2 separate regions of the Homo sapiens genome follow, and region 1 is linked to region 2. Evidence: fine-mapped expression QTL. A gene starts in region 2. The other region holds a variant in brackets. All regions are shown on one strand. Distances are from middle to middle. Region 1 overlaps SLC6A16 (solute carrier family 6 member 16). Region 2 holds the start of SLC6A16 (solute carrier family 6 member 16).

Region 1 (16,424 bases), 37 kb before region 2:
TGCAAATGGTTGTAGTTCTCCTGTCCAGTCCACCACCACTGGCCCATGCTGCAAGTTCCCCCAAATAAGCCCTGTGTTTTGTGTGCTGGCTCTGGGTCTCTTCTTCAGCCTCTTGAACTTGGTGCCATGGCTACTGAAGTTAACAGGCATTTGGCACGACAACCGATGATCCCAGCAGGAGGTTGGAGAAAATCCTGTGCACGCAGAGTCGATGGGATTGGAGAGGAGAATATCATCGGGGGGCATCTCGGGCTGGCTGTCCACGTCTGTGTGGGGCCCAACAGCCACTATCCTTGATGGATGAGGCCCAAGGCATGGGTACAGAGATGCCCCCAAAACACTGAAGGGTCTGGAAGAGCTATTGCAGGAGGTGGATCTAACTAAGCAAAAGTTAGATGCCTGAGCTGTGGCAGCTGCGGTTGGCTGGCCACTCCTGACTGTGCTCTGAGCAGCCTCGGGGGCCGGGCTCATGGCGCAGGTGAAGGTGCATCCATTACAAGATGAACTGCGATGACAAAGAGATGCCTAATTAGATCAGACTGAAACATCAGAGACCGACTGTCCTGCCTGCAGGCACGGGATGACAAAATGGAGAGACCCTGGCTTGTCAGGTATGGTCCATTTGAAAAGCTGCTGGCTGCTATGTCAATGAGTTAGGGCCCTCATGACTAAATCATCCTGGGACCCTAAGTTCTGGGACCCCATGGAGAGCTCTAGTGGGGAAGAGAGTGAGGCCTGGGATGAGCTCATGGAGGTGCCCATCCTCTCTGCACGTTTGCTGGTCAACACCAAGATGAAAGCCGACCAACCACAGACATAGGGGGTCACCCTGCAAGACTTGCCCCTGCCTGGAAGACACCATAGTGCGGGATTCCACGGCTGTGGAGTTGGTGGAGCTGGGAACTAGGTTCAGGAAGAAGGGCAGAGAGTCGGTCACAGGGTGGCTTCTCTGTCTATGGGACATGGAACAGAGATGAGTGAAATGGCATCCATCACCAACCATCCAGCCCTGAGGCGGTGCCTCGATGGCACCAATAATGACGATCGGGCCACCCCCTCCTTAGCCGGGTGGTTGCAAGCTGCAAGGCAGCCTGGCCAAATGAAAGGAATGTCCCAGCTGGGTGCAGTGGCTCAGGCCTGTAATCCCAGCACTTTGGGAGGCCGAGGCAGGAGGATCATGAGGTAGGGAGTTTGAGACCAGCCTGGCCAATATGGTGAAACCCCGTCTCTACTAAAAATACAAAAATTAGTCGGGTGTCGTGGCAGGTGCCTGTAATCCCAGCTACTCGGGAGGCTGAGGCAGAAGAATCGTTTGAACCCGGGAGGCGGAGGTTGCAGTGAGCTGAGATGGAGCCATTGCACTCCAGCCTGGACAACAGGGCGAGACTCCATCTCAAAAAGAAAGAAAGGAATGTCCCCACATCTCCTTTGTGATGACAGATTATGGAGGAATTGAGGGACATCCTCTGGGAATTAGGGGTGATGCTTGCTATCTACACTGAGCATTACCGAGGCCCTGACAAGGAGCTTTTCACTGCGGGCATGAGAAATGCCATCTTACAGTAGGCACACTACCAATGGTGTGGCACACTGGCGTCTATCTTGAGTCCCTTCATAGGAATCACTTGAACCTGGGAGGCGGAGGTTGCAGTGAGCCAAGATCGTGCCACTGCACTCCAGCCTGGACCACAGAGTGAGACTCCGTCTCAGAAAAAAAAAAAAAAGGCAAAAAACCAAGAATGCATCCAGGAGGCAAGGTGGCTTACGCCTGTAATCCCAGCACTTTGGGAGGCTGAGGTGGGCAGATCACGAGGTGAGGAGTTCGAGACCAGCCTGACCAACATGGTGAAACCCTGTCTCTACCAAAAATACCAAAAGTTAGCTGGGCACCTGTAATCCCAGCTACTCTGGAGGCTGAGGCAGGAGAATCGCTTGAACCCGGGAGGTAGAGGTTGCAGTGAGCCGAGATCGTGCCACTGCACTCCAGCCTGGTGACAGAGTGAGACTCCATCTCAAAAACAAAACGAAACAAAAAAACAAGAATGTACAGGCTGTTCCCAGCGGATACTGGAGCTGAATGCACTCTCGTATGTGGTGACATCCGTGGTTCCAGTGGCCTATAACAATAGATGGTCGGTGGGGGCGGGGGTCGTGAAAGTCAGACAGGTTGAGCTAGTATTACAAGTTAGGAGACTGCTGCCCAAACCCTATTTAGTATACAGAGCTCCTATCCCAGATTACATCTTGGGAAGGGCTGTCTCATCAGGACTGTGACCCTCTGAATTGCGACTGAGTTAGGATGGTGAGGCGCGTGATCAAGGGGAATGCGAAATGGACACCAGCACAGCTGCCAGCCCCTCTGTGAATAGCAGCATTGAAACGACAACACCTGGCCGGGCGCGGTGGCTCACGCCTGTAATCCCAGCACTTTGGGAGGACGAGGCAGGCGGATCACGAGGTCAGAGGATCCAGACCGTCCTGGCTAACACGGTGAAACCCTGTCTCTACTAAAAGATACAAAAAATTAACCGGGCGCGGTGGCGGGTGCCTGTAGTCCCAGCTACTCCGGAGGCTGAGGCAGGAGAATGGCGCGAACCCGGGAGGCGGAGCTTGCAGTGAGCTGAGATCGTGCCACTGCACTCCAGCCTGGGCGACAGAGCAAGACTCCGTCTCAAAAAAAAAAAAAAAAAAGAAAAGAAAAAAGAAACGACAACACCTGCCAGGAGGTCATGATGAGATCATAGGGACTGAAAAGGAAAGAAGTCTGGGTAGACATTATAAGACCAGTGAACAGCCCATACAATAGCCCTGCATGGCCCATGTGGATGCCTGATGGGACACGGAGAATGACATATTACTGGGAGTTCAACAAAGCCGTCCCCCTAATGTATGCAGCTGTTCTCATATCGCCTCCTTTCTTATGAGGATAAGAGAGGGACTGCACGCACCTCATTTTGTCATTGCATTCACCTGGTATATTAGTCCGTTTTCAAGCTGCTATAAAGAACTGCCCAAAACTAGGTAATTCATAAGGGAAAGAGGTTTAATTGACTTACAGTTCAGCATAGCTGGGGAGGCCTCAGGAAGCTTACGATCACAGCAGAAGGCAAAGGGGAAGAAAGGCACCCTCTTCACGAGGCCGGGCGAAGGGGGGAAGAGCCCCTTATAAAACCATCAGATCTCGCGAGATCTCACTCCCTGCCACGAGAACAGCATGGGGGAAACCGCCCCAATGATTCAATTACCTCCACCTGGTGTCTCTGACACGTGGGGATTATAGAGATTTCAACTCAAGACGAGATTTGGATGGGGACACAAAGCCTAACCCTAGCTGGGCGTGGTGGCGGGCGCCTGTAATCCCAGCTGCTCAGGAGGCTGAGGCAGGAGAATGGTGTGAACCTGGGAGGCGAAAGTTGCAGTGAGCCGAGACCACGCCATTGCACTCCAGCCTGGGCAACAGAACGAGACTCCCTCTCAAAAAAAAAGCCTAACCTTTTCACCTGGGAAGGAGAACAATATACCTTTACTGTCTTGCCGCGGGGATATTTCCATAGCCTCACTATCTGTCAACGCCTAGTGGCCACAGACCTCAGTAGATGGACTACCCTGGAGAGGGTACATGTTTTCCTTTACATTGATGTTAAATTCTGAGTCTTTTGCCAGCTAACTTCTGAGTCTCTATAGCCCTCACCTTGCTGTCTCACTTGGTTAACAGAGGATGGGCGGTCAATGCAGACAAAGGCAGGGTCCAGGCTTATCAGTCCAATACTTGGTGTCATCTGGTTGGGTAAGACTAACGGTGTTCAATTTGCCATTCTACATATGGTGCAGGCCTACCCACATCCTACACCACCAAAGTGGCTGCAAACCTTCTTAGTTCTTCTAAGGCCGTGGTGTCCTTTTATTTCCCATTTGGCTCAACTCCTTAGGCCACTGTACCACTTAGTCAAGAAGGGGGCCAACTGGGACCAGTGGCAAAGGCAAGGACACAAACTTGTACCTTTAGGATTCTGGTTCCAGCTATGGAAGGGGACTGAAGTTACAGTGTCAGGGAGCTATAATTCTGCACTACGTGTTATGCCTTACAGCAAGTGGAAGATGTTCCAAAGGGGTTCCCATGCTAGTACATACCCAGTACCCCATAGTAGGTTAGCTGGGATTACAGGTGCCCGCCACCACGCCCACCTAATTTTTGTATTTTTAGTAGAGACAGGGTTTTGCCATGTTGGCCAGGCTGGTCTCAAACTCCTGACCTCAGGTGATCCGCCCACCTTGGCCTCCCAAAATGTTGGGATTACAGGCGTAAGCCGCCACGCCCAGCCAGCCTGTGCATTCTTAGGTGACCAATATATAGTTAGCTAGCTCTATATGTGGCCGCCAGTCTCCAGACACTCAGCCACCATTGCTCTTATCGGGATCCTGAGGCCTTAGCCTTTATCCTAGTCGAAAGTAGGACACCTTCCAGAAACCAAAATCTGGGAATGCCCAGAAACAGATTGTGGCCAAATGGCACGCATGCCTGCAACAGAGGAGTACACGAACTAGCACAGGGTTCCGTTTGCTGCTTGGCCCTGTCACCTATGTGACAGCTGAAGGACAGTCTTTGACAAGGCACTGAGCCTCCACATATTCCCTCCTTTATATAAGAGGGACAGGCCCCAATTCCTGACCAGGCCTGGTACACAGATGGCTTGTCACGAGGCAATCCTTCCACCTGTATCCAGCTGTCCACTGAGAGTATCTGGCTCGATACAGGCAAAGGACATGTAGCCAATGGGCTGAGCTGCCTGGATGGTTTCTTCTAGGAGCCGGACCCAACAGTCCTGTGCACTGACATCTGGGCACCATCTTTAAGGGGCCCACCATGTGCCTACTACAAGGAGAAACACAGGATTGGATGGTAGCAGGCAGCCCCCTTTGGGGGGCTGATATAGAAGAACATTCTCCACTGCACCTGGGGGATGCATGTAACAGTCTAGCGTCTGGATGCCCACACTGCATAATATCCCTATTGTCTTACTCCAGCCTCATGTGACACTTTGTAGAGAGGGGGCCAACCTATTTGGTATTGCAAACCAAGCACCAGGCCACTCTCGGGGTGATGCTGTCTCAGAAGGACACAACTTCCTGTTTCTTGTAAAATGACCATGAGGCTGGGTGCAGTGGTACATGCCTGTAATCCCAGCACTTTGGAAGGCCGAGGTGGGTGGATCACCTGAGGCCAGCAGTTTGAGACCAACCTGGCCAATATGGCAAAACGCCACCTGTACTAAAAACAAAAAATTAGCTGGGCATGATGGCGGGCGCCTATAATCCCAGCTACTTGGGAGGCTGAGGCAGGAGAATCGCTTGAACCCAGGAGGCGGAGGTTGCAGTGAGCCGAGATCCAGCTACTGCACTCCAGCCTGGGCAACAAGAGTGAAACTCTGTCTCAAAAAGAAAAAAATGACCATGACTTGCCCCTTCTTGTACTCACTAAACATCTCACTTTTCACCCATAGATGGTATGCAGCAAACCTCTTGCCAGCTGAGCACAGACGGTGGTCTCTCTCCAGAACAAAACAGACTGTTGGGTCTGCAGAGAGCTGCCCCTCTCCTCCACTGCGGGCCTGCCGTGGTGCCTCGCAGCAGTTAACCTGAGTACCTGAAGCCACTTTTATATTCATTATTTTTTCTGTTGTAGTTTGTATTGCTGCTGTGGTGTCTGGCTGCAATGCTCCTCCGCATACCTGGCCCCAGGGAAATGGTGGAAGAACGGTACAAGAATGTGAGGGCCATTCAAAGGTATGCTAGAGTGGCCAGGTCGCAGTGGCTCACGCCTGTAAACCCAGCATTTTGGGAGGGCCGAGGCATGTGGATCACTTGAGGTCAGGAGTTCAAGACAAGCCTGGCCAACATGGTGAAACCCCATCTCTACTAAAAATACAAAAATTAGCCAGGTGTGGTGGCACATACCTGTAATCCCAGCTACTCAGGAGGCTGAGGCAGGAGAATCACTTGAACCTGGGAGGCGGAGGTTGCAGTGAGCCAAGATCGCACCACTGCACTCTAGCCTTGGCGACAGAGTGAGACTCCGTCTCAGAAAAATGAAAAACAAAAACAAAAAAAACACAGCAAGGTGGGTATGCTGGAGTGAGGGTATATGGTAGACGCACCTGGCAGCAATAACTTAAGCACACCCTGAGGATAAGGGCTGCCGCATGGAGGTTGCTGGGGGAGGGTGCTGAGTGAAAGTGCCATATAAACTGCATGCATTTTGCAAGTGGGTGTGGTTCTCCTGTCCAGCTCATCACCACTGGATCACCCTGTAAGTTATCTCAAATAAACCCTATTTCTCGTTTGCTAGCCCTGGGTCTCTTCTTCAGCCTCTTGAACGTGGCGCCATCCCTATTGAAGCGTCCCGCATGTCAGGGATGCAAATTAGAAAGCAGAATTAGGCCAGGTGCAGTGGCTCACGCGCTTTGGGAGGCTGAGGCGGGCGGATCCCTTGAGGCCAGGAGTTCGAGCCCAGCCTGGCCAACATGGCAAAACCCCTATCTCTACTAGAAATACAAAAATTAGCTGGGCACAGTGGTGTGCGCCTATAATCCCAGCTACTTGGGAGGCTGAGACATAAGAATCGCGTGAGCCCAGGAGGTAGAGGTTGCAGTAAGCCGAGATCGTGCCACTGCACTCCAGCTTGGGCAACAGAGCGAGACTGTCTCAAAAAAAAGAAAAAAAAAAGGCTGGGTGCAGGGGCTCACGCCTGTAATCCTAGCACTTTGGGAGGCCAAAATGGGCAGATCATGAGGTCAGGAGTTCGAGACCAGCAACTCTCGAGACAGGGCTACATGTGACTCTCGAGACTGTCTCGAGACTGTCTAGAGACAGGGCAACATGGTGAAACCCTGTCTCTACTAAAAATACAAAAATAGCTGGGCGTGGTGGTGCACCCCTGTAATCCCAGCTACTCAGAAGGCTGAGGCAGGAGAATTGCTTGAACCTAGGAGGCAGAGTTTGCAGTGAGCCAAGACCGAGACACTGTACTCCAGCCTGGGCAACAGAGCAAGGCTCTGTCAAAAAAGAAAGAAAGAAAGAGAGAGAGAGAGAGAGAGAGAGAGAGAGAGAGGGAAACACACTAAGAGAGAAATAAAATATTTTTTCTTTCTTTCTTTGAGATGGTAAGCCCCTACTTTTCAATCCCCCTCTCCCAAGTTCCACCTCCAAAACTGGACCGGGGATGGTGGGGAGGTAGGTGGGAGGGGCCTTGAGGCAGAAGGGAGGATGAGTGCCCTGGTTCCCAAAAGGGAGGAGGTTGAAGACCCAGACTATTTGATGAGAAGGAGGAGCCCACCGCCTTCTCTCTCCCATCCCCACATTACCCGATTCAATAGTGCAAGTCTTCAAGCAGATAGAGCATTTGGAATTTGGGGGGTGGATGGGCTGGCCTAATAGGGCACAGGAGCCAATGGGTGATGACACAGAGGTGCACGCCCCTCCAGCCCTCCTATCTTCAAGCTTGAAGAGCCAGACTTCAGAGGTCTGGAAACTTCAGATGCCTCTGCTCTTTCCTTTCTGCAGATCCACCTCTTGAGTCCTGCCTGCCAATGGTTGGGGGTGTCTTCTTTTCCTTTATCACTGAAACTTACCCGTGGGCTCTAAGCAATCTAAAAGCCTGAGATCTCTGAGCATTTAAGGGAAACCCATTCCCTGGATCTTTGGGAATCCCAATCACCTCTGTCCACAGCCCCCATCCCCAGCAGGTAACTGACAGGCCCCCCAGTCTCCTTTTGGGGAGTACTTCAGCACCCTCATGGCACTACCCTCCCACAAGTTCTTAAAGACCCACTCAGTGATCATCCACTGGGCAAGTTCAGTTGATTTGACCCTGGGATAAAAACCAGTGGTGCCCAGTACTGAGCAGAAATGGGACTCTTGGTGAGCTCAGTGAAACAGCTTGTTAGTAACTGGTTGTGGCACTGATTTACAGATGTACTCAGTCCACAACACAATGTTCAAACCTTGAGTGCAACCTCTTTTTAGAAATAATTTTAGACCTATAATAGGATTATCATGTATCAGTAGCAAGCACATTAATATCTTCCCCATCTTTGTTGAAGTCACCATTTCCCAGGTTTCCCTTGGCTAAAGGCCAGCCC[G/A]TGGATAATGCAAGCCTGGTAATCTAGTATCTGAGTTTGCCAGAGCAAGGGGAGGGCAGGAACTCAGGGCTGGACATTTAGCTTTAGAAAGACTGTGATATGGTTTGGCTGTGTCCCCATTTAAATCTCAACTTCAGTTGTATCTTCCAGAATTCCCATGTGTTGTGGGAGGAACCCAGGGGGAGGTAATTGAATCATGGGGGCTGGTCTTTTCCATGCTGTCTCATGATAATGAATAAATCTCATGAGATCTGATGGGTCTATCAGGGATTTCCACTTTTGCTTCATTTTCTCTCTTGCCACCACCATGTAAGAAGTGCCTTTCACCTCCCGCCAGGATTCTGAGGCCTCCCCAGCCATGTGGAACTGTAAGTCCAATTAAACCTTTTTGTTCCCAGTTTCAGGTATGTATTTATCAGCAGCATGAAAACTAATACAGTAAACTGGTACCAGTAGAGTGGGGTGTTGCTGAAAAGATACCCAACAATATGGAAGCAACTTTGGAACTGGGTAACAGGCAGAGGTTGGAACAGTTTGGAGGGCTCAGAAGAAGACAGGAAAATGTGGGAAAGTTTGGAACCTCCTGAAGACCTACTGAATGGTTTTGACAAAAATGCTGATATGAACAATAAGGTCCAGGCTGAGGTGGTCTCAGATGGAGATGAGGAACTTGTTGGGTACTGGAGCAAAGATGACTCTTTATTATGTTTTAGCAAAGTGACTAGTGGCATCTTGCCCCTGCCCTAGAGATTTGTGGAACTTTGAACTTGAGAGAGATGATTTAGTGTATCTGGCAGAAGAAATTTCTAAGCAGCAAAGTATTCAGAAGGTGACTTGCGTGCTGTTAAAAGCATTCCGTTTTAAAAGGGAAACAGCATAAAAGTTCAGAAAATTTGCAGCCTGATGATGCAGTGGAAAAGAAAAATCCATTTTTGAGGAGAAATTCAAGCCAGCTGCAGAAATTTGCATGAGTAGCAAGGAGCCTAATGTTAATCCCTTAGACCATGGGGAAAATGTCTCCAGGCCATATCAGAGACATTCATGGCAGCCCCTCCCATCACAGGCCCAGAGGCCCAGGAGGAAAAAGTGGTTTTGTGGGCCAGGCCCAGGGTCCCCATGCAGTGTGCAGCCTAGGGACTTGGTGCCCTGTGTCCCAGCCACTCCAGCCATGGCTGAAAGGGGCCAACGTACAGCTCGGGCTGTGGCTTCAGAGAGTAGAAGCCCCAAGCCTTGGCAGCTTCCACGTGATGTTGAGCCTGCGGGTGCACAGAAGTCAAGAATTGAGGTTTGGGAACCTCCGCCTAGATCTCAGAAGATATATGGAAATGCATGGATGTCCAGGCAAAAGTTTTCTGTAGGGGCAGAGCCCTCATGCAGAACCTCTGCCAGGGAGGGAAATGCAGAAGGGAAACGTGGGGTCAGAGCCCTCACACAGAGTCAGAGTCCCTACTGGGGCACTGCCTAGTGGAGCTGTGAGAAGAGGGCCACTGTCCTCCAGACCCCAGAATGGTAGAACCACTGACAGCTTGCACCCTGAGCTTGGAAAAGCCACACTCAACACCAGCCCGTGAAAGCAGCTGGAAGGGGGACTGTACCCTGCAAAGCCACGAGGTGGAGCTGCCTAAGACCATGGGAACCCACCTTTTGCATCAGCATGACCTGGATGTGAGATCTGGAGTCAAAGGAGATCATTATGGAGCTTTAAAATTTGACTCCCCTGCTAGATTTTGGACTTGCATGGGCCCTGTAACCCCTTTGTTTTGGCCAATTTCTCTCATTTGGAATGGCTGTATTTACCTGATACCAGTACCCCCATTGTATCTAGGAAGTAACTAGCTTGTTTTTGATTTTACAGGCTCATAGGTGGAAGGGACTTGCCTTGTCTCAGATGACACTCTGGACTTTTGGATTAATGCTGAAATGAGTTGAGACATTGGGGGACTGTTGGGAAGGCATGATTGCTTTTGAAATGTGAGGACATGAGATTTGGAGGGGCCAGGGGCAGAATGATATGGTTTCACTGTGTCTCCATTTAAATATAAACTTCAATTATATCTCCCAGAATTCCCACGTGTTATGGGAGGGAACCAGGGGAGGTAATTGAATCATGGGGGCTGGTCTTTTCCATCCTAATCTCGTGATAGTGAATAAGTCTCATGAGATCTAATGGGTTTATCAGGGGTTTCCACTTTTGCTTCTTCCTCATTTTTTTCTCTTGCTGCCATCATGTAAGAAATGCCTTTCACCTCCCACCATGATTGAGGCCTCCCCAACCATGTGGAACTGTAAGTCCAGTTAAACCTCTTTTTGTTCCCAGTTTCAGGTATGTCTTTATTAGCAGTGTGAAAATGAACTAATACAGACTGGAAGCCTTGTGACAGGAAAACTGAACATCTGAGACATCTATAGGAAAAAAAGATCTGCTTACATCCAGTCCTTGGAGTTCCAGTAGACTGATTTATTCACCAACAGCATTGCTCCTCCAGCTCCATTCCAGGAGACAGGCACCCCAGAAGTAGCAGGACTGGTAGACATCACTAGTATTGTATATGTGTTGTGCATGTATGTGTGTTGAGGAAGAGGATGGGGAAAACAATGATGGTGGTCACCAGGTAAGATGGGACCCAGGAAGGGATTGCAAGTCCAGGCCCCATGAACACCCCCAAAGAATGCCCCTCCTCTTGGAAATAAAAGTGGTTCTGGATCCAGGGAGATCAACAGTTGCAAGCTGATATTAAGAGTTGTCTATTGGATCTGTTCTAAGGGATATGTTATGTGAAGCCAAATTAATGAAGTTAGGAAGTCACATTACAAGTTGATGGGTACTTTGTTTCATCAACTTGTAGAATTTCTTCCTTTTGAACCTCTTTACTGGGTGTTAGCTGGTGACTTAGGGGTAGGGATGTGGAGGCTGTCATAGGCCCGTCTCCGCTCTTGGGCCTGAAGGGAATCCTATGTATGCGGCAGTATACAAAGTATGCAGGGATGGGGAGGATGACAATGGCAAAAAGGGTGATCATCAAGAGCAGTGCCCACGGTGGGTATGGTCGAAGCACCTCTTTTGACTGTGGAGAGATGGGAAAAGGGTTCAGAATATCAAAATCCCCAAGAGAAAAGGAAGAGTTGTGGAGGGGAAGGATGGGTGGGGAACCAAAGCAGAAAACCCATGAGTCTTCGGGCAGTAAGAGAATGAGATGACTGGGTTCTTTCACCCAGAGTGAATTGAAAGGTCTGGCCCCTACTCCCAAAGGGGTTCTGGGTCCTGGGGGAGGCTCACGGTGCTTGAGTCCCAGGACATGTAGGTGATCGGCTTCATACAAAGATGAACCATCATGGTCACAAAGATGATTAGCAGCACAACTGGACACAGATGGGGCCACAGCCAACCAAAGATGGGAGAGATGGGGTGGCCCAACAGGATCGTCAGGTCTGCAAGGAACCTGGAGAAGGGCCACCAGAGTGTGGGATGCCCAGTTAGGCCTCACCACCTTGGAGGCAGGGCCAGCCCAACCTTGGCATCTTTCAAACATTCTATTGTATCTCTAATCTCCTGTTTCATCTCAAGTCTTGTCCTCTCTCATCTTCCCCCTAGTCAGTCTGTCTTCTATCCTAACCCAAGAAACTTTTCCAAACACCCCTCTCCTGCTCAAGAACTTTCCATGGGTATCCAATGGCCTCAGGAGAAAGGCCAAGTCTCTTTCATTCATCCCATAAATATGAGAATGTCTATGATGTGCCAGGAACTCTTCTAAGTGCTGGATATCCAGCAGTGAACAACACAGATAAAATAAAGTGGCATTTGGCCCTTGGTGAACTTATCTAGTTTATTTCAGCCACCTATCCAGTCTCCTTTAGTACATATTCTCAATCTCAATAAATATACAAGTGGGGTCTTTTGGTCTAGGGTGCCCATCACCCTATCTCCACCTATTCATCTGTCCAGGCTCTGCTCAAGCATCCTCTTCTCTAGGCCACCTTCCCTAACTCTCCAGTCTTCCTTAACTAACCATCTATGCCCCCGGAGTTTCCCTGGCTACCTCTACTATAGACTTACCACCGGGTACTGGGATTTTCTGCTTATATACGTCTTTCTCTTTGGACTCTGAGCTCTTTGAGAAGAGTATCTCAATGTAAGTCATTCATATCCCAGTACCACAAGGCTTTCCTGACACAAAGTCTCAAGAAAATGTTTGTTGGGTGAGTTAATAAATGAGTCCATAAGTGAGCAAACTGACTCCAAGAACCACTATCAGATGAAAATGCTGAGGCTTTCACCCCTGAATTATACCAGGAACTCTTCTAAGTGCTGGATATCCAGCACTGAACACAGATAAAAGAAAGTGGCATTTGGCCCTTGGGAAACTTATCTAGTTTATTTCAGCCAACTATCCAGTCTCCTTTAGTACATATTCTCAATCTCAATAAATATACAAGTGGGGTCTCTTGGTCTAGGGTGCCCATCACCCTATCTCCACCTATTCATCTGTCCAGGCTCTGCTCAAGCATCCTCTCCTCTAGGCCACCTTCCCCAACTCTCCAGTCTTCCTTAACTAACCATCTGTGCCCCCGGAGTTGCCCTGGCTACCTCTACTATAGACTTACATTCCACAGCTATATCTTCCAGGTCTCACTCCCAGATTATCTTGTTCTCTTTCCCAGGTAGCTCTACCTTCCAGAATCAGACCACTTCTCTTAATCCACAACTCTTCTACTTTTGACCAAGCCATTCTTAGCTCTCACTTGAAATATTACATAGCTTTCACCAGGCGGGGTGGCTCACGCATGTAATCCTAGCACTTTGGGAGGCTGAGGCAGGTGATCACGAGGTCAAGAGTTCGAGACCAGCCTGGCCAACATGGTGAAACCCCGTCTCTACTAAGAATACAAAAATTAGCCGGGCGTGGTGGTGAATGCCTGTAATCCCAGCTACTCAGAAGGCTGAGGGAGGAGAATTGCTTGAACCCGGGAGGCGGAGGTTGCAGTGAGCTGAGATCGCACCACTGCACTCCAGCCTGGGCAACAGAGCAAGACTCCATCTCAAAAAGAAAGAAAAAAAGAAATATTACATAGCTTCCAACTCTTATCCTGGCTTCACTCTTGACTCTTCCTGGTCTGTTCTCCAGACAGCAGCCATAAATACCTTTTTAAAAAACAAATCTAATAATGGCACTCCCACCTGAAAATGTCATTCTCCTACTCAAAACCCTCCAATGCTTCATCTGCCATTCTGCATACAAAGCTGAGTCCTATCGTGGCTTACAAAACCCTACATGACTTGGCCACCATCACTTCTCTAGCCCCATCTCCTAATATCTTCTATTCCAGCCTCTCTGACTTCCTTGTTTCTCAAAAACTCTAGGCATTATGCTTCCTCTGGCCTTGGTAATTTCTGTTTCCCTGCAGGGAGCACTTTACTCAAAATCTTGTCATGACTCCCTCCCTCCTATCATTCAGGAGTCTGCTCACATGTCACCTTATCGGAAGGGCCCTCCCTGAAGTCGTATGTGACTTGGTGCCCACACACACTCCCACTATGTGCCATCTGACCTCATCCTTTGATTCTTCCTATCGCCTGTATTTATTCTCAACGTTTTTATTCTTTATTTGCTAATCTGGTTATTGTCTCTCTAGACCACTAAAATGTAAGCTTTCTGAGAATAGGAATACTTCTTTTATTCAATGCCCCTATCCCTGATGACTAAAATAGTGCCTGGCACATATTCAGCACCCAAAATATATGTGAAAATGGATGAATGAATAAAAAGATTTCCCAGAAGACTCTGAACTTAAGGGTCCCTATGTCACACTAGGTGGGTTGACAGTAGAGGCAACAAAAAAGGGGTCACCCTTCCCTATAGTCCCATGCTTTGTGAGAACCTGGGCTTAGGACATCACCTCCTGGCCCCATAGGCCCAGGATACAGCCATGGTTTCAAATACGACAACGACGATGATGGGGAAGACTATCCAGTAGTCACTCAGCAGTCTGATGAAGTAGCTGCCTGAAGGTCGAGTGAAGAAGAGGCCGCACACGAACATGAGCAAAAAGACTCCCACTGGAGAAAACATGAGATCTGGATCAAGGTTAGAAGTCACGGCTGGGTGACAAGGGCTAAGTAGAGGCCATAGACCAGGGCTGGTGGCAGACCCAGTGGTAGCCGGGCGAGGGGGCTTACATGTGTAATCCAAGCATTTTGGGGAGCCTAAGTGGGCAGATTCCTTAAGCCCAGGAGTCTGAGACCAGCCAGGCAACATGGTGAAAGCCCGTCTCTACAAAAGCTACAAAACTTAGCCGGGCGTGGTGATGCACGCCTATGGTCCCAACTACTGGGGAGGCTGAGGTGGGAGGATCACTTGAACCCAGGAGGCAGAAGTTGCAGTAAGCCGAGATCACACCACTGCACTCCAGCCTGGGCTACAGGGACCCTGTCCCAAAAAAAGAGTCCCAGTGGTGTCAGGGGTCAGGGTCATTGTTAGGAGTAGGGCCTAGGTCAGAGTACCTATGAGCAGCTTTGTATGTTTCCTGAAGAAAGAGAAGGTGTCCTGGAGTGGAGTAATGATGCCCTGCATAATCCCTATTGCGCTGCTCAGCCCCATGGCCAGCAACATCAGGAAGAAGATAAAAGACCAGAAGACAGACGGAGGAAGGAAGGACATGGCTTCAACAAAGGACAGGAATGCAAACTTTGGGCCCTCGCTAGCCTGCAAAGAGAACAAAGAGGTGTTAAAGTGTCATTGAACTAAACAATAACAAAAAAATATAGACAAGTATACATTCTATCTTCCCTGGAAAACTCCTGAAAATCCCTGGATCACTGAGAAAATCAGATGTCCAAGCTAACCCCCTGACATGGAAAATCAATCCACCTAGCATTATCCATGGAAGGCCATTCCGCAAAGTATAGTACTTTGTATTACTGAGAGCCACAGATGATTCTGGTGCTTCCGGGATTTTTGCTGGTGCTAATAAAAGCTAAAATTTCTGTTGTGCTAAAGGCTTTCAGGAACTCTAGGCTCCCCCCTCAGCTATGTTTACTGACCTTAAGAAACTGAGTCTCTATGTTGCACTCAGTCACCTCGCGGAGAACCATGCTTTTGATGTGCTGGGGAAGGCCACTGAGCCAGGCATTGTAGATGGAGGTTGGGTTGTAAAGCAGGTTGACAGGGGGCTTGGCATCAGGAGGCAGTTTCCCTAGGTTTATCAGCTTTAAAAGTATTTCAGCATTCCTGGGGATAGAGGGTTGAATCAAATCGAACCATTTGGCCCAGTAGGAGATAGTCTCCTTTTCCCTTATCTTCAAGATAAAAAAGGCTATCACTGGCTTAGCATTACTGATCTGGGTAAGATAGAGCCTGGGATGAATCCTAGAAGGCACCCGCCTTCAGGGACGTGAATTCGTTTGTGTAATCCTGGAGAATTTATGACCATGGGAGAGCCTAGGAGAAGCATTTTCTACAGTCTTCTTGGGGACTCTGTGGTCTCTGCTCTAGTGATGGGATTTCTTATACGCTGTCTACCTTCCCTCTCCACTGAGACTAACGGGTAAGAGCCAACTTTCTAAAGTTCCTATTACAGCATGTCCGGGAGCACACAGACTATGATCATAATGTCCCATGGAGTCGTGCTGTGTGGCAGCAACTGCTTGTTCGACTTTTTGATGTGAGCCCTGCTGACCATTTTGGCCTCATATGTCCCTACGGCCCTCTTCACATTCCATGTTCTGGCCAGATTTAACTACTTACCGTGTCAGGGCCCATCATACCCCATCACACACAATACCAACTCCACCCCCACCACCATTCTTCACTTGGCTAACTCCTACAAACCCTTAAAAATTCAGCTCATTGATCGAGACCATCCTGGCCAACATGGTGAAACCCCGTCTCTACTAAAAATACAAAAATCAGCTGGGCATGGTGGCACGTGCCTGTAGTCCCAGCTATTCGGGAGGCTGAGGCAGGAGAATTGCTTGAACCTGGGAGGCAGAGGTTGCAGTGAGCCGAGATCGCACCACTGCCCTCCAGCCTGGGCGACAGCGAGACTCCATTTCAAAAAAAAAAAAAATTCAGCTCATTGCTCTGTAAGAACTGCAATGGACAGCTTGCCAAGGTTCACTGATAAAAGCAAAAGGCAAGCAAGTAGAGTTTGATCACATTTTAGAAAATAAAATACTATATGCTATTCCAGTAATAAGCTAGAGATTTGAACCAATTTTCTCATCGGAAATAATTTAAAAGGCTGGAAGATATTTTTAAATCTTCTAACAAAATAAAAATGTTGACAAGA
Region 2 (16,424 bases):
GGAGTCAACAATAGAAACTGAAGGGACCAGGGCAGACTAGATTCTATGAACTCTTAAAATTAACCAACCAGGGATCTTTTCCAACCCAGAGGCCACAATGAGGAGAAATTCCTGTGAGTAAAGCCAAATTGAGCAATACAAGAACAAGAATGATGAAGGATAGGCCAGACACAGTGGCTCATGCCTGTAATCCTAGTACTTTGGGAGGCCAAGGCAGGAGGATCACTTGAGGCCAGGAATTCAAGATAAGCCTTGACAATGCAGTGAAAACCCATCTCTACCAAAAAAAAAAAAAAAAAATTAAAATTAAAATTAGCCAGGCATAGTGGGACACGCCAGTGGTCCCAGCTATTTGGGAGGCTAAGTGGAGAGGATCGCTTGAGCCCAGGAGTTCAAGGTTGCAGTGGGCTATGATCACACCACTGAACTCCAGCCTGAGCAACAGAGTGGGACCTCATTCTCTAAAAAAATAAAATAAAATAGGCCAGGTGCAGTGGTTCATGCCCGTAATCCCAGCACTTTGAGAAGCCAAGGCAGGAGGATCACTTGAAGTCAGGAGTTTAAGACAAGCCTGGCCAATATGGTGAAACCCCATCTCTACCAAAAAATACAAAAATTAGCCAGGCATGGTGGGACACACCTGTAGCCCCAGCTACTCGGAAGGCTGAGGTGAGATAATTACTTGAATCCAGGAGGGGGAGGTTGCAGTGAGCCAAGATTGCACCACTGCACTCCAGCTTGGGCAACAGAGTAAGACCCTATCTCAAAAATAATAACAATAATAATAAAATAAAATTAATTAATTAAAAGATAATTTTAAGAAAACATAGAAATGAAGGATATACAGGATCCAGATAAAAATGGGGAGAAGAAATTTCCACTTTTGACCATGAAAGCAAAACAGTGTCTGGAGTTACCTCCACAAAAACACTACAAAACTGTACAAATAGGCCAGGCGCCGTGGCTCACGCCTGTAATCCTAGCACTTTAGGAGGCCGAGGCGGGCGGACCACGAGGTCAGGAGATCAAGACCATCCTGGCTAACATGGTGAAACCCCATCTCTACTAAAAATACAAAAAATTAGCCGGGCATGGTGGCGGGCGCCTGTAGTCCCAGCTACTCGGGAGGCTGTGGCAGGAGAATGGCGTGAACCCAGGAGGTGGGGCTTGCAGTGAGCAGAGATCGCACCACTGCACTCCAGCCAGGGCAACACAGCGAGACTCCGTCTCAAAAAAAAAAAACTGTACAAATAATTAAAACAACTATTTTCACATATTAAACAAAGGCAGTACAGCATTGCAATCTCTAAAAAAAGGCCAGAAAACAAGGTAACTAATTGCACGATTGCCCCATTTTTCTGCTAATTTCCAAACTTTGGCACAGGAGGAAGAATACAAACAGAGCCTGGCAGTCTCAGCACTTGAGGAGGCAAAAGTCAGTTCAGGAAGGCTTAGGTGACTAGAATTAGCTGGGCTAAGTACTCAACAGAAGGGAGCCACAGAGAAAGAGCTCTAGGAATCTGGATAAAGTACCTTCGAGCCATTAGCTAAATATCAACCTGCACATGTATAGTATGAAACCTCATAAGAACAGGCAAAGAATAAATTCCAAGGAAAGAAAAGTACTGGGGAACTACAGGTAAAACAATTCCTAGAACTTGGAGAAGAACAAGAATTACTCAAGTTTCCATCAGCCAGTGTGGAGAGACTTTACTGAATACTTGGAACATTTAAAGTGGCATAAACTAGCTCTAGTTCTAGTAGTAGGACTACTTTAGACCTGAAAAAAAAAAATTCTTAAAAGCAACCCTTAAACAGCCAAAACTGATCTTCAAGTAACTTAACTGCCTGTCACAACAAAGGCCAACATTCCTTAAGATAATACAGACAAACCTAGCACTGAACAACAAAAAATTCATAATGTCAACCATCTAGTCAAAAATTACTAGACATGCAAAAAAGCAGGAAAAGTGACCCATAATCAGACAACAAAAACAGAAATGATAGACTAATGGAATTAACACACCATAACACTAAAATAGCTGTTACAAATATGCTTAATATGGTCAAGGACTTAAAAGGAAAACATGAACAGAATGAGGAATATAAGATAGCTAGATAGCTAGCTAGCTAGACAGACAGATAGATATTTTCTCTTTTGAGACAGAGTCTCACTCTGTTGCCCACACTGATCTCAGCTCACTGCAGCCTCTGCCTCCAAGTTTCAAGCAATTCTCCTTCCTCAGCCTCCCAAGTAGCTGGAATTACAGGTGTGCACCACCACAACTGGCTATTTTTTTTTTTTTTTTTTTTTTTTAGTAGAGACAGGGTTTTGCCATGTTGGCCAGGCTGGTCTCGAACTCCTGATCTCATGTGATCCAGCTACCATGGCCTCCCAAAGTGCTGGGATTACAGGCATGAGCCTCCATGCCTAGCCATGATATATTTTAAACATCAAATAGAACTTCTAGAGATGATACAACACCTGAAATGAAAATTTCACTGAAGATTACTGGCAGATTTTAATAAATCAGTGAACTTAAAGATATAGCAATAGAAACAATCCAAAATGAAGCACAAAGAAAAAAAAAAGACTGAAAACAATTACCAGAGCATTAGTGACTGTGAGACAATATCAAATGGCCTAAAATGTGTAACTGGAGGTCCAAAATAAAGGGAGGATGGGAAAATGAAACCAGGCCAATTTTCCAACAAGCCAGATGCCCATAGAACTGAAGCTTGAGAAACTTACATTTGTACAATGAGATGAACCTGCTGTATGTTGACCAAGTACTCTTCTTTACTCCTCCCTAATTCCTTCATATATGTGTGTGTGTATATATATATATTTGTATATACATATAAATACATATACATATACATATGTGTATATGTGTATATGTATATACATATACTTATACATATATGTGTATATGTGTATATGTATATACATATACCTATACGATATATACATATACATATATATATCAAGAAAAGACTCACATAATTGAAAGGATAAAAGGACAGTTCTACAATAATAACTGGAGACTTTAATACCCCACTACGAACAATGGACAGAAGCAGCAGACAGAAGATAAGCAAGGAAATAGAGGACTTAACACAATAAACCAACCAGATCTAACAGATGTATTCAGAACACTCTAGCCAACAGCAGCAGAATACACATTCTTCTCAAGTGCACATGGGACATTTTCCAGGAGAGACCACAAATTTGTAGGCCACAAATTTCCTTTTTTTCTCAATAGAATTAGAATGATAAATATCATACAAAATATCTTCTCCAGCCACAATAGGATGAAGTTAGAAATGAATCACAAAAGTAAAATTGAAAATTTTACAAATTTGTAGAAATTAAACAACACACTCTTAAACAACCAATGGATCAAAGAATAAACTACAAGGGGAGTTAGAAAATACTTACAGATAAATGAAAACGAAAACACACATACTAAAATTTATGGGAGGCAACAAAAGCAATGCCAAGGGGGAAATTTATAACTATCAATGGTTACATTAAAAAACAAAAAAGAGGCCGGATGCAGTGGCTCACGCCTGTAATCCCAGCACTTTGGGAGGCTGAGGTGGGTGGATCATTTGAGGTCAGGAGTTCAAGACCAGCTTGACCTACATAGTGAAACCCCATCTCTATTAAAATACAAAAATTAGCTAGGCATGGTGGTGGGCGCCTGTAATCCCAGCTACTCAGGAGGCTGAGGCAGGAGAATCGCTTGAACCTAGGAGGCGGAGGTTGCAGTGAGCCGAGATCACACCACTGCACTCCAGCCTGGGCAACAGAGCAAGACTCCCTCTAAAAACAAACAAACAAACAAACAAAAAAAAACCAGATCTTGAATCAATAACCTAACTCTAAAACTTAAGAAACTAGAAAAGCAAACTAAACCCAAAGCTAGCAGAAGAAAATAATAAAAATTAAAGCAGAAATGAATAGAGAATAGAAAAACAATAGAGAAGCCAAAAGTTGTTTCTTTAAAAATATCAACAAAATTGACAAACCTTTAACTAGATGTACTAAGAAAAAAAGAGAAGACTCAAATGATTAAAACCAGAAATGAAAATGGGGACATTATTACCAATTCTACAGAAATAGAAGGATTATAAGAGAGTACTATGAACTTATGAACAACTGTACACCAATAAACTGGATAACCTAGATTAAATGGACAAATTCCTAGAAATACAAATCTACTAAGACTAAATCACAAACAGAAAATCTGAATAGATCTATAACTAGTAAGGAGATTGAATTGGTAATCAAAAATCTCTCAACAAAGAAAAGCTCTGGACCTGATGGCTTCATGGGTGAATTCTACTAAACCTTTAATGAATTAATATCAATCCTTCTCAAACTTTTCCAAAAAATTGGAGAGGAGGGAACACTTCCTCATTCATCCTATAAGGCCAACATTGCCCTAATACCAGAGCCATACAAAGACATTATAAGAAAAGAACACTACAGACCTATATTCATTATGAACTTTGATGCAAAAATCCTCAAAAAAAATACTACCAAACCTAATTCAGCAGCATATTAAAAGGATTATATACCATGACCAAGTGGGATTTATTCCTGGAATGCAAGGATGGTTCTGCATACAAAAATCAATCAATATAATATACCACATTAACAAAATGAAAGAAAAATAATGATTCTCTCAACTGATGCAGAAAAAACATTTGACAAAACTCAATACCCTTTCATGATAAAAAAAAAAAAAAAAACTCAACAATCTAGGAGTTAAAGGAAAATACGGCTGGGCATGGTGACTCATGCCTGTAATCCCAACACTTTGGGAGGCCTGATGACCACTTGAACCCAGGAGTTCAAGACCAGCCTGGGGCCAGGTGCAGTGGCTCACATCTGTAATCCCAGCACTTTGGGAGGCCAAGGCGGGTGGATCACCTGAGGTCAGGAGTTCAAGACCAGCCTGGCTAACATGGTGAAACCTGATCTCTACTAAAAATACAAAAATTAGTCAGATGTGGTGGTGTGCACCTGTAGTCCCAGCTACTTGGGAGGCTAAGGCTGGAGAATCGCTTGAACCTGGGAGGCAGAGGTTGCAGTGAGCCAAGATCATACCACTGCACTCCAGCCTGGGTGACAGAGCAAGACTCCATCTCAAAAACAAACAAACAAACAAACAAACAAAATTTTTAATTACCTGGGTGTGTTGATGTACTTCTGTAGTCCTAGCTACTCATGAGGCTGAGATGGGAGAATCACTTCAGCCCAGGAGGTCAACGCTACAGTGAGCCATGATGACACCACTACACTCCAGCCTGGGTCACAAAGTGACACCATGTCTCAGCAAAAAAAAAAAAAGGAAAATATCCCAACATAATAGCCATATACGAAAAACTCACAGCAAATGTCATACTTAATGATAAAAGACTGTAAGCTTTTCCTCTAAGATTAGAAACAAGCGTAGAATGTCTAATTTTGCCACTTTTATTCAACATAGTACTGGAAGTCCTAGCCAGAGAAATTAGGCAAAAATATAAATAAATAAAAGGAAACCAAACTAGAAAGATTATATGATCTTATACGTAGAAAATCCTAAAATTTTCACCAAAAAAATTTTTGAGCTAATAAATGAATTCAGCAAAGTAGCAGGATACAAAGTCAACAATCAAAACTCAGTTGCATTTTTATACACTAACAATGAACAATCTGAAAAGAAAATTATGAAAACAATTCCATTTGTAATAGCATCAGAAAGAATAAAATACTTAAGAATTAACTTGGCTGGGCACGGTGGCTCAAGCCTGTAATCCCAGCACTTTGGGAGGCCAAAGTGGGCAGATCACCTGAGGTCAGGAGTTCGAGACCAGCCTGACGAACATGGAGAAAACCCGTTTCCATTACCAAGTTACCCAGGCATGGTGGCACATGCCTGTAATCCCAGCTACTCAGGAGGCTGAGGCAGGAGAATCACTTGAACCTGGGAGGCAGAGGTTGCAGTGAGCCGAGATTGCACCATTGCACTCCAACCTGGGCAACAAGAGTGAAACTCCATCTCAAAAAAAAAAAAAAAAAGAATTAACCAAGAAGGTGAAAGACATGTACAAAGAAAACTACAAAACATTGCTGAAAAAAATTAAAGGAGACATAAATAAATGGAAAAATATCCCATGTTCATGGGTTGGAAGACAACACTGTTAAGATGTCAGTATTACCCAAAGCAATCTACAGAATTAGTAGCTTTTTTTTTTTTTTTTTTTTTTTTTTTTTTTTTTTTTTTTTTTTTGCAGAAATAGAAAAACACGTCCTAAAACTAACATGAAATCTCAAGGGACCCTGAACAGCCAAAATAATCTTGAAAAAGAAGAAAAACGCTGGTGTACTCACATTTCCTGATTTCAAAACATATTACAAAGCTATAGTAATCAAAATAGTGTGTTACTCACATAAAGATACAGACCAAGGGAACAGAATAGAGGGCCCAGAAACAATGTATGGAAAAATGATTTTTTACAAGGGTGCCAAGACTACTCAATGAGTAAAGGACAGTCTTTTCAACAAATGGTGCTGGGAAAACTGGATTATGTACAGGCAAAAGAGTAAAGATGGACTCTTACCTAACACCACATACAAATACACAAAATAAATCAAAGACCTAAATGTAACACTTAAAATTATAAAATTCTTAGAATAAAACATACGACAAAAGCTTCATGATAGTGGATCTGCAATGAATTCTTGGATATGATACCAAAGGCAAAAGCAACAAAAGAAGAAACAAACAGGATTTCATTAAAATGTTTTAAATTTGTGCATCAAGAGACACTATCAAAGGGGTGAAAAGATAACCCACAGAATGGGAGGAAATATCTGAAAATCATATGTATAATAAGAGATTAATATTCAGAATATATAGAGAACTCGTAAAACTCAACAACAAAGAAACAAACAACACAATTCAAAAATGGGCAAAAGACTTAAATAGACATTTCTCCAAGGAAGATATACCAATCTCCAAGAAGTACATGAAAAGATGTTCAACGTCACTAATCATTAAGGAAATGCAAATGAAAACTACAATGAGATAATACCTCGCATCCATTAGGATGGCTAATATAAAAAGGCAGAAAATAAGAAGTGTTGGTGAGGATGTGGAGAAATTGGAATCCTTGTGCCTTGCTGGTCAGAATGTAAAATGGTGCAACCACCATGGAAAACACTATGGTGGTTCCTCAAAAACTTAAAAATAGAATTACCATATGATCCAGCAATTCCACTTCTGGGTATACACCCAAAATAAGTGAAAACCAAGCCTCCAGTGGCTCAGCCTGTAATCCCAGCTCTTTGAAAGGCTGAGGTGGAAGGATTGCTTGAGCCCAGAAGTTCGAGGCTGTAGTGAGAGGTGATCATGCCACTGGACTCCAGCCTGGGAGACAGAGAGAGACCCTGTCTCTTAAAAATAATAATAATAGGCTGGGCACGGGGGTTCACACCTGTAATCTCAGCACTTTAGGAAGCTGAGGCGGGTGGATCGGCTGAGGTCAGGAGCTCGAGACCAGCCAGGCCAACACAGTGAAACCCCGTTTCTACTAAAAATACAAAAAATTAGCTGGGGGTGGTGGCGCACGCCTATAGTCCCAGCTACTTGGGAGGCTGAGGCAGGAGAATCGCTTGAACCTGGGAAGCAGAGGTTGCAGTGAGCTGAGATCGTGCCACTGCACTCCAGCCTGGGTGACAGAGTGGGACTCCATCTCAAATAAATAAATAAATAAAAAATAATAGATTCATGTTTCTTAAACACATTCTAGAACAGTTGTCCTTAAAAGCAAGCTTTACGGAAGGGAGAGAACTGAGTTTTGGCCAGCTGGCCACTTCCAACATCCATAAAGCCCCTTGAGCCCCAGGCGGACTCCTCTTCCCATATGGGTGCAACCCTCCATGGTGCCCCTACACCGTCATCCCAAGCAACTCCTAGGCTCATGCCCTGTGGGGAGTGCTCAGGATCCCCCAGAAATGCCCATTCCCCTCACATTACCTCCTTCCCTGGAACTATAACCTCCAGAAAAGGAAAATAAGGAGCTGGTGTCCCATTTCTGCAAAAAGCAGAAAATAACTGCCCTAACAGACCAGTGATGGGGCTAGACCCGGGTTTCTGCCACTCGGGCACTTGACACTGATGGCTTTCCCCAAAGGCAGGGACTGATGGCCGAATCCTGTCAAGGAATTGGCTCAAACTCGGACTGGATGAGTGAGGAGAGCCGAAGACAGTTTCCTCTGTCCTACGTGGGGGGTAAAGGAGGGACCCCTTTGATCCCTCAGCTCCACAGAGCCCAGGGCAACCAGGAGGCTCCCAGCCAGTCACCTGTCACCCGTCAGTGGAGCCCAGTGGGCCCGGGCCTCGAAAATGGCGCCCAGCCCCACACACCCCAGATGTGGGAACATTTTAGGGCTCCCTGGGCCGTGACCCTCACCCTAGCCCCAAGGCTTCTGCCAGGTTCTTCAGTCCAGCCAGTCGGACAAAAATGAGGGTGAAGAAGCCCCAGCTGAGAAGCCTAGCAATCTCCTCAGGCCCCTTCAGGCGTCGACAGATCGGTTTGGGCGACACCCCTCGATCTGCCTGGCGCGCGGCCTTTCCCGCCGATTCTCTGCGCATGCGCCGCCGCGCCCCCTCACTCTTTCCCTACAGCTGTAGCAAACACTGTAACCACTTCGCCCTCCCCAACTCCCTGCTCTCTCCCCACACGCACGCACGTGTGCACATCCTCTGACTGCTCACGCGCCACTCCCTTCCCCACCGCACCCCACCCCGACACCCACGATGCCACGCTTCAGGCGGGGCTCTAAGACAAGGCCTTTCTCTGGCACATGCACTTTGCTTCCACTTCATGTAAGGAAGAAGAGGGTAGGAAGTGGGAGAATCGTCTCATTCATTCCTTCTAGCCTTCAAACCTTTCGCATTTACTTAAAGATCGCCTACTAGAAACCAAACCTTAAATATGCGTCCAACAAGGCAGACAGGGACGTTGCCTTAAGAGAGCTCAGAAGCCTACTAGGGCTGCAGACAAGAATTAAAAACTCAAAGATTTACTTAGGTCATCCGTTCTCATACTTTCCGGTCTCTTAAGAATTATTAAGGACTCCAATAATTTATGAGTTACATTTATATGGGTTGTATGTTTATGTGAGTTGTATCTATCAATATTAAAATAAATTTCTAAAATAGTCATTGTTTAAAAATTCATTATGTGTCAAAATAACATTTTTATTTAAAATAACTATAATTTCTACTCCAAAAGAAATTTTGGCGCTGGGCGCGGTGGCTGACGCCTGTAATCCCAGCACTTTGGGAGGCCAAGGCGGGTGGATCACGAGGTCAGGAGTTCGAGACTAGCTTGGCCAACATGATGAAACCCCGTCTCTACTAAAAGTCAAAAAAAAAAAAAATTAGCCGGGCGTGGTGGCACACACCTGTAATCCCAGCTACTCGGGAGCCTGAGGCAGGAGAATCGTTGGAACCCAGGAGGCAGAGGTTGCAATGAGCCGAGATTTTGCCACTGCACTCCAGCCTAGACAACAGAGCAAGACTCCGTCTCAAAAAAAAAAAGGAAAAAAAAGAAAAAATTTGGGGAGAAGAATGGCATCATTTTACATTTTTGCAAATCTCTCTAATGTCTGGCTTCATAGAAGACAGCTGGATTCTCATATCTGCTTCTGCACTGAGTGTGTCAAAATAGCTCATGTCTTGTAGCTTCTGGCAAACATCACTATATTCAAAGAGGAAATGAAAGTGAAAGGCAAATAATATCTTAGTAGTATTATGAAAATAATGTTCACCTCATGGACCCCCAAAAGTGTTTCAAGAGCCCCCAGGAGTCCCTGAGCCACACTTTGAGAATGAAAGGCTTAAATTGTTATGATTGAACAAAGAGATGAAGAGGAAATTTTGGGGGTGCTGTAAGAATTCATCACAATCTTTGGGAATCATTCAATCTTTCAACACGTATTTATCGAGAGTCTACTAAATGCTAGGAACTGGGAATAGTGTAGAGAACAAAACAGACCCCATTCCTGCCCTCGTTTTGCTTCACACAACAAGAAAACAGATATATGATGAATCTCAAATAATTACATGATTATAAATTGTATTAAGTGCTATGACAGGCCGGGCATGGTGGCTCACGCCTGTAATCCCAGCACTTTGGGAGGCCAAGGTGGGCGGATCACATGAGGCCAGGAGTTCAAGACCAGCCTGGCCAACATGGTGAAACCCCATCTCTACTAAAAATACAAAAACGAGCCAGGTGTGGTGGTGCACGCCTGTAATCCCAGCTACTCGGGTGGCTGAGGCACAAGAATCACTTAAAACCATGAGGCAGAAGTTGCAGTAAGCCAAGATCACACTACTACACTCCAGCCTGGGTGATGGGGTAAGACCCTGTCTCAAGGAAAAAAAAAAAAGTGCTGCGACAGAAAAGGGCCACAGACCTATTTATTTCTATCGAATTTTTTTTTTTTTTGAGACAATCTCACTTTGTCACCCAGGCTGAAGTGCAGTGGCATAATCTCGGCTCACTGCAACCTCTGCCTCCCGGGTTCAAGCAATTCTCCCTGCCTCAGCCTTCCGAGTAGCTGGGGTTGCAGGTGCCTGCCATTACGCCTGGTTAATTTTCATATTTTTAGTAGAGTCAGGGTTTAGTAGAGTCAGCCTGCCATGTTGGCCAGGCTGGTCTTGAACTCCTGACCTCAGGTGATCCGCCCGCCTCAGCCTCCCAAAGTGCTGGGATTACAGGCGTGAGCCACTGCGCCCGGCCCATAGACCTAATTTAGAAGGAGGATTTCTCTAAGGAAATAACACTGGAGTTGAGGCTTAAAGGATTATTTGCTAGGTGAAAAATGTGTGTGAACATCTCAAGCCTTGAGGCTGTGCAAAGGCCCTGAGGCAGGGCAAACTGTGTGTTCAAGGCACCAGGAAAAGTCTCAGTCGGTCAATAAATATTTATTGAATGATGTGCCCCACACTGTCCTAGACCCCTGGGATATAGTTATGAAAAAGATTTTACGTTCCAGTTGCACAAAGAAAGTAAATGCCTAAATAGAAAGAATTTCAGAGAGTAAGAGTGCTGATAGGGAGTTACTTTAGACAGGGTAGTCAAGAAGGACTCTTGGGGAAAGTGATATTTCAGCAGAGAGCTGAAGGAAGGGAGCCTTGTGAACAGCATAGGGAAGAACATTCCAGGCAAAGAAAATGGCAACAGCAAAAGCCTTGAGGCAAGAAGTACACTTGATGGGTTCTGGAAATGGCAAAGAGTCTGATATGAATGGATCCCAGTGATTGAGGAAAGGGTAGCAACAGATCAGATCAGAGCAGTGGCAGGGGCCAGAGTATTATTTGGAGGCCCTTATAGGTCATGGTCGGAATTTTTTTCTTTTTTTTCTGGGTGAGATGAAAGCTATTTGAGGGTTCTGAGTCAAGGAGTGACTTTCATTTTAATGGCAGGCTCCCCCTGGCTTCTGGGCAGAGAATAGCATGTATGGGTGTATTCCTCTGTTTTCACACTGCTGTAAAGAACTGCTCAAGACTGGGTAATTTACGAAGAAAAGAGGTTTAATTGACTCACAGTTCAGCTTGGCTGGGGAGGCCTCAGGAAACTTACAATCATGGCAGAAGGCAAAGGGGAAAAAAGGCACCTTCTTCACAAGCAAAGGAGGGAAGAGCCCCTTATAAAACCATCAGATCTCATGAGAACTCACTCACTATCACAAAAACAGCCTGGGGAAACCACCCCCATGATTCAGTTACCTCCACCTGGTCTCTCCTTTGACACATGGGGATTATGAAGATTATAATTCAAGATGAGATTTTGGGTGGGGACACAGCCAAATCATAGCAATGGGCTAAAGATAGAAGCAGAGAGCCCAGTGAGGAGGAAATCTCTAGTCCAGGCAAGTGATGGTGTTGATTAGATCTGGGTAATAGCAATGGAGATGGTGAAAAGTGGTCAAATTCTGGATCTATTTCAAGAATAGAGCCGACATGATGTGTTGATGGATTGTGTGGTGGTTTTAAAATACGTCTGCAAATTCTTCAACACTTTGAAAGATAAAGTCTATTTCCCCAATCTTTGAGTGCAGGCTCTCCTTAGCAACTGGCTTCCAATGAACATAAGTAATGGTGGGGAACTTCAGGACTAGGTCATAAAAAGCATTGCTGTTTCTTACTTGCCCATTCCCTTCAACTGATTTCTGTAAAGGAAGCCAGTCACCATACGGTGAGGACACTCAAGCAATCTGTGAAGAGATCCATATAAGAGAAGAGCTGAAATTTCCTGCCAGCAACCAGCACCAGGTGAGTGAACCATGGTGAAGTGGATCCTCCAGCCGTAGTTAAATCTCCAGATGACTACAGCCCCAGCCAACATCTTGACTGCAACCTCATAAAACACTGTGAGCAGAAATCATCCAACTAAGCTGCTCCCAGATTCCTGACCCACAAAAACTACAGTAGGTAAGAAATGTTTATTGTGTTTTTTTTTTGAGATAGAGTCCTGCTCTGTTGCCCAGGCTGCAGTGCAGTGGTGCGATCTCAGCTCACCACAACCTCCGCCTCCCAGGTTCAAGCAATTCTCCTGCCTCAGCCTCCCGAGTAGCTGGGACTACAGGTGGGACCACATCCAGCTAATTTTTGTATTTTTAGTAGAGACGGGGTTTCACTATGTTGGTCAGGCTGGTCTCGAACTCCTGACCTCGTAATCTGCCTGCCTCAGCCTCCCAAAGTGCTGGGATTACAGTGAGCCACCGCTCCTGGCCTAAGAAATGTTTATTGTTTTAAACTGCTAAATTTGGGGTAATTTGTTACAGAGCATTAGAAAACTAATGGTGATTAGGTTTGGGGTCTGAGAGAAAGAGAGGAATCAAGAATGACTCAGCCGGGAGCGGTGGCTTGCACCTGTAGTCCCAGCACTTTGCAAGGGCGAGGTGGGAGGATTGCTTGAGGCTAGGAGTTTGATAGTAGGATACTAGCCTGGGCAACATAGCAAGGCCTTGTCTTTTTTTTTTTTTTTTTTTTTTTTTGAGACAGTCTAGTCTCGCTCTGTCGCCCAGGCTGGAGTGCAGTGGTGCGATCTCCACTCACTGCAAGCTCTGCCTCCCAGGTTCACACCATTCTCCTGCCTCAGCCTCCCGAATAGCTGGGACTACAGGCGCCCGCCACTACGCCTGGCTAATTTTTTGTATTTTTAGTAGAGACGGGGGTTTCACTGTGTTAGCCAGGATGGTCTCGATCTCCTGAACTCGTGATCCGCCCGCCTCGGCCTCCCAAAGTGCTGGGATTACAGGCGTGAGCCACCGTGCCCAGCCCGGCCTTGTCTCTTAAAGGAAAGAAAAGTGTTTTTTAATAGCCAGGTGTGGTGGCACGCATCTGTTGTCCCAGCTACTCAGGAGGCTGAGTGGGAAGATCACTTGAGCCCAGGAGATTGAGGCTGCAATGAGTCATGATCGTGCCAGTGCCCTCCCACTTGTGTGACAGAGCAAGACCTCAAAAAAAAAAAAAAGACTCCAAAACTTTGGGCCTGAAGAATTGGAAGATGGAGTGACAATTTACTGAAAAGGAAAGTACTGGAGTGTGCAGGAGGTGGGAGGGAATCAATAGTTTCGTTTTGGGCGTGTTAAGTTTGAGATGTCAATTATACAGCCAAAGGCAGAGGTTAAGTTGTCCTTCACTGCAAGGAGACCTGGGAAATGAATCTTCCTGAGTCCGCAGTTCAGGGGAAAGTTTGAGGCTAGGCATATAAATTGGTAAGTCAACAGTATTGTAGATTGCGATGAACACTATGGCACTGCATGATATCATCTCGTGAGTGAGTGTAGCTAGAAAGGGCTAGGACTCCCCAAATTTTAGAAGCTAGAAAAAGGACGATCCAATGAAGATTGAGGAGAACCAGCCAGTGAAGAAGGAAGGAGGAAAAGCAAGAGGGAATTTGCCAGTAAAGGAGGAGGGGATCAGGTGAATTCAATGGGTAGAATTGCTGTTCTCAAACGTTAGTGCACATCAGTCACCAGGAAGGCTTGTTAAAACACAGACTGCCAGGCCAGGTGCAGTGGCTTGCCTGTAATCCCAGGACTTTGGGAGGCCAAGGTGGGCAGATCACCTGAGGTCAGGAGTTCAAGACCAGCCTGGCCAACATGGTGAAACCCTGTCTCTACTAAAAATACAAAAATTAGCTGGGCATGATGGTGGGTGTCTGTAATCCCAGCTACTCAGGAGGCTGAGGCGGGAGAATCGCTTGAACCCGGGAAGCAGAGGTTGCAGTGAGCCGAGGTTGTGCCATTGCACTCCAGCCTGGGCAATAGAGTGAGACAAAAAAAAAACACAAAAAAAAAAACAGATTGCCAGGCCCGCCCCCAGAGTTTCTGATTGAGCAGGTATATTCGCTTCCCGAGACTGCTGTATAAATTACTACAAACTTGGTGGCTTAAAGCAACAAAAATATATTATCTCACAGTTCTGGATGCCAAAAGTCCGAAATTAAGGTGTCAGCACGCCACTTCCTTCAAAGGCTCAGAGGACAATCCTTCCTTGACTCTTCAGTTTCTGGTAGCTCCTGGTGTTCCACTTTTTTTTCCCCTGTAGGGTCTTGCTCTGTCATCCAGGCTGGAGTGCAGTGGTGCAATCACGGCTCACTGCAACTTCGATCTCCCAGGCTCAAGCAGTCCTCCCACCTCAGCCTCCTGAGTAGCTGGGACTGTAGGTACATACCACAAAGCCCAGCTAATTTTTTTGTTAATTTTTGTAGACAGGGTCTCACTATGTTGCCCAGGCTGGTCTCGAACTCCTGGGCTCATGTGATCCTCCTGCCTCAGCCTCCCAAAGTGCTGGAATTACAGGCATGAGCCACCTCACCTGGCCCATAATAATGTTTTGATATATATAGTGTATGCAGTAACAGGTATTCTATTTGTAGTTGTTAGGATGTTTAAGGTTAGCTGATTTAACAAACAACCGTAAAATCTTAGTAGCTTAATACAACAGGTTGTTACTTACATAAAGTCCAAAATGCTTTATGTAAGTCCAAGGATAATTCTCAGCTTCCTGCAGCCAGTGAGTGAAGGGAGAAAGAGTAAGGATTATGGAGGACATTTCAGGCTGAGTCTAGAAATGGGCTGTGTCCCTTCTGCACCCATTCCATTGGCCCAAGACCAGTCACATGGCCTCAACTTCACTGCAAGGAGACCTGGGAAATGAAGTCCTCCTGTGTGCCTAGGAAAGAAGAAACCAAGTTGGTGAGCATCAAAGCTGCAGTGAGCCGTGATTGCACCACTGCACTCTGCCACCTACCCTTCGACTTCTGGTTAATCATGTACTCATCTCTGAGGAGGGATCAGTGGGTGGGAAGGAGGGATTGGTGTATTAGTCTCCTATGGCTGAAATAGCAAATTACCACAGACTTACTACTTAGAACAACAGAAATGTATTCTCACATGGTTCTGTAGGCCAGAAGTCCAAAATCAAGGTGTCACCAGGGCCACACTCCCTCCAGAGGCTCTGAGAGAAAATCAGTTCTTTGCATCTTCCATCTCCTGGTGGCTCCAGGAGTTCCTTGGCTTGTGGCTGTAGAACTCCAATTTCTGTGTCTACCATCACATGGTGCTCTCCTCTTCTGTGTCTTCTCCTCTGTGTGTTTCTTAGAAGGACACTTGTCAGCCGGGTGCGGTGGCTCACGCCTGTAATCCCAGAACTTTGGGAAGCTGAAGTGGGTGGATCACGAGGTCAGGAATTCAAGACCAGCCTGGCCAAGATGGTGAAACCCCATCTCTACTAAAAATACTAAAATCAGCTGGGTGTGCTGGCAGGCGCCTGCCTGTAATCACATTTACTCGGGAGGCTGAGGCAGAGAATTGCTTGAACCTGGGAGGCGGAGGTTGCAGTGAGCCGAGATCACACCACAGCACTCCAGCCTGGGTGACAGAGCGAGGCTCTGTCTCAAAAACAAAAACAAAAAACAGACACTTGTCATCAGATTTAGGGGTCACACAGATAATGCAGTATCTTGAGATCCTGAATGTAATTATACCCGCAAAACCCTTTTTTCCAAATAAGGTCACCACAAGTTCTGGGGATTAGGACATAGACATATCTTTTTGGAGAACGCCATGCAACCCACTATAATCAGCTATAATTATTTTTGTAGAAAATGATGGGAACCTGACTTAGGATGGTGGCCTTGGAAAGAAGTGGCTGGGTTTGCAATGTACTTTAATGGTAGAGCAGAGAGGCGTTGGTGGTGGTTAGAAACAGAAGCTGAGGGGCTGGGCGCAGTGGCTTACACCTGTAATGTCAGCACTTTGGGAGGCCAAGGCAGTTGGATCACTTGAGGTCAGGAGTTCAACACCAGCCTGGCCAACATGGTGAAACCCTGTCTGTACT

Evidence for each region. PIP is the estimated chance that this variant, and not a neighbour inherited with it, causes the effect.
Region 1: its variant is fine-mapped to the expression of SLC6A16 in whole blood (TOPMed, PIP above 0.99).

The regions. Positions count from the first base shown.
Region 1 is chr19:49,279,190-49,295,613 of GRCh38, forward strand. SLC6A16 (solute carrier family 6 member 16) reads right to left here. Exons shown (of 12, transcript NM_014037.3): 8 at 15,178-15,364; 9 at 14,638-14,839; 10 at 14,034-14,193; 11 at 11,416-11,578; 12 at 10,449-11,203. The coding sequence ends at 10,934. Among named protein-coding and RNA genes, the nearest start is that of MIR4324, 21 kb to the right of the region's middle. The variant G/A (reference allele first, on the strand shown) is at 8,139.
Region 2 is chr19:49,316,576-49,332,999 of GRCh38, forward strand. SLC6A16 (solute carrier family 6 member 16) reads right to left here and starts at 8,616. Exons shown (of 12, transcript NM_014037.3): 1 at 8,473-8,616. RefSeq lists an enhancer at 9,780-9,929 and a silencer at 10,723-10,874.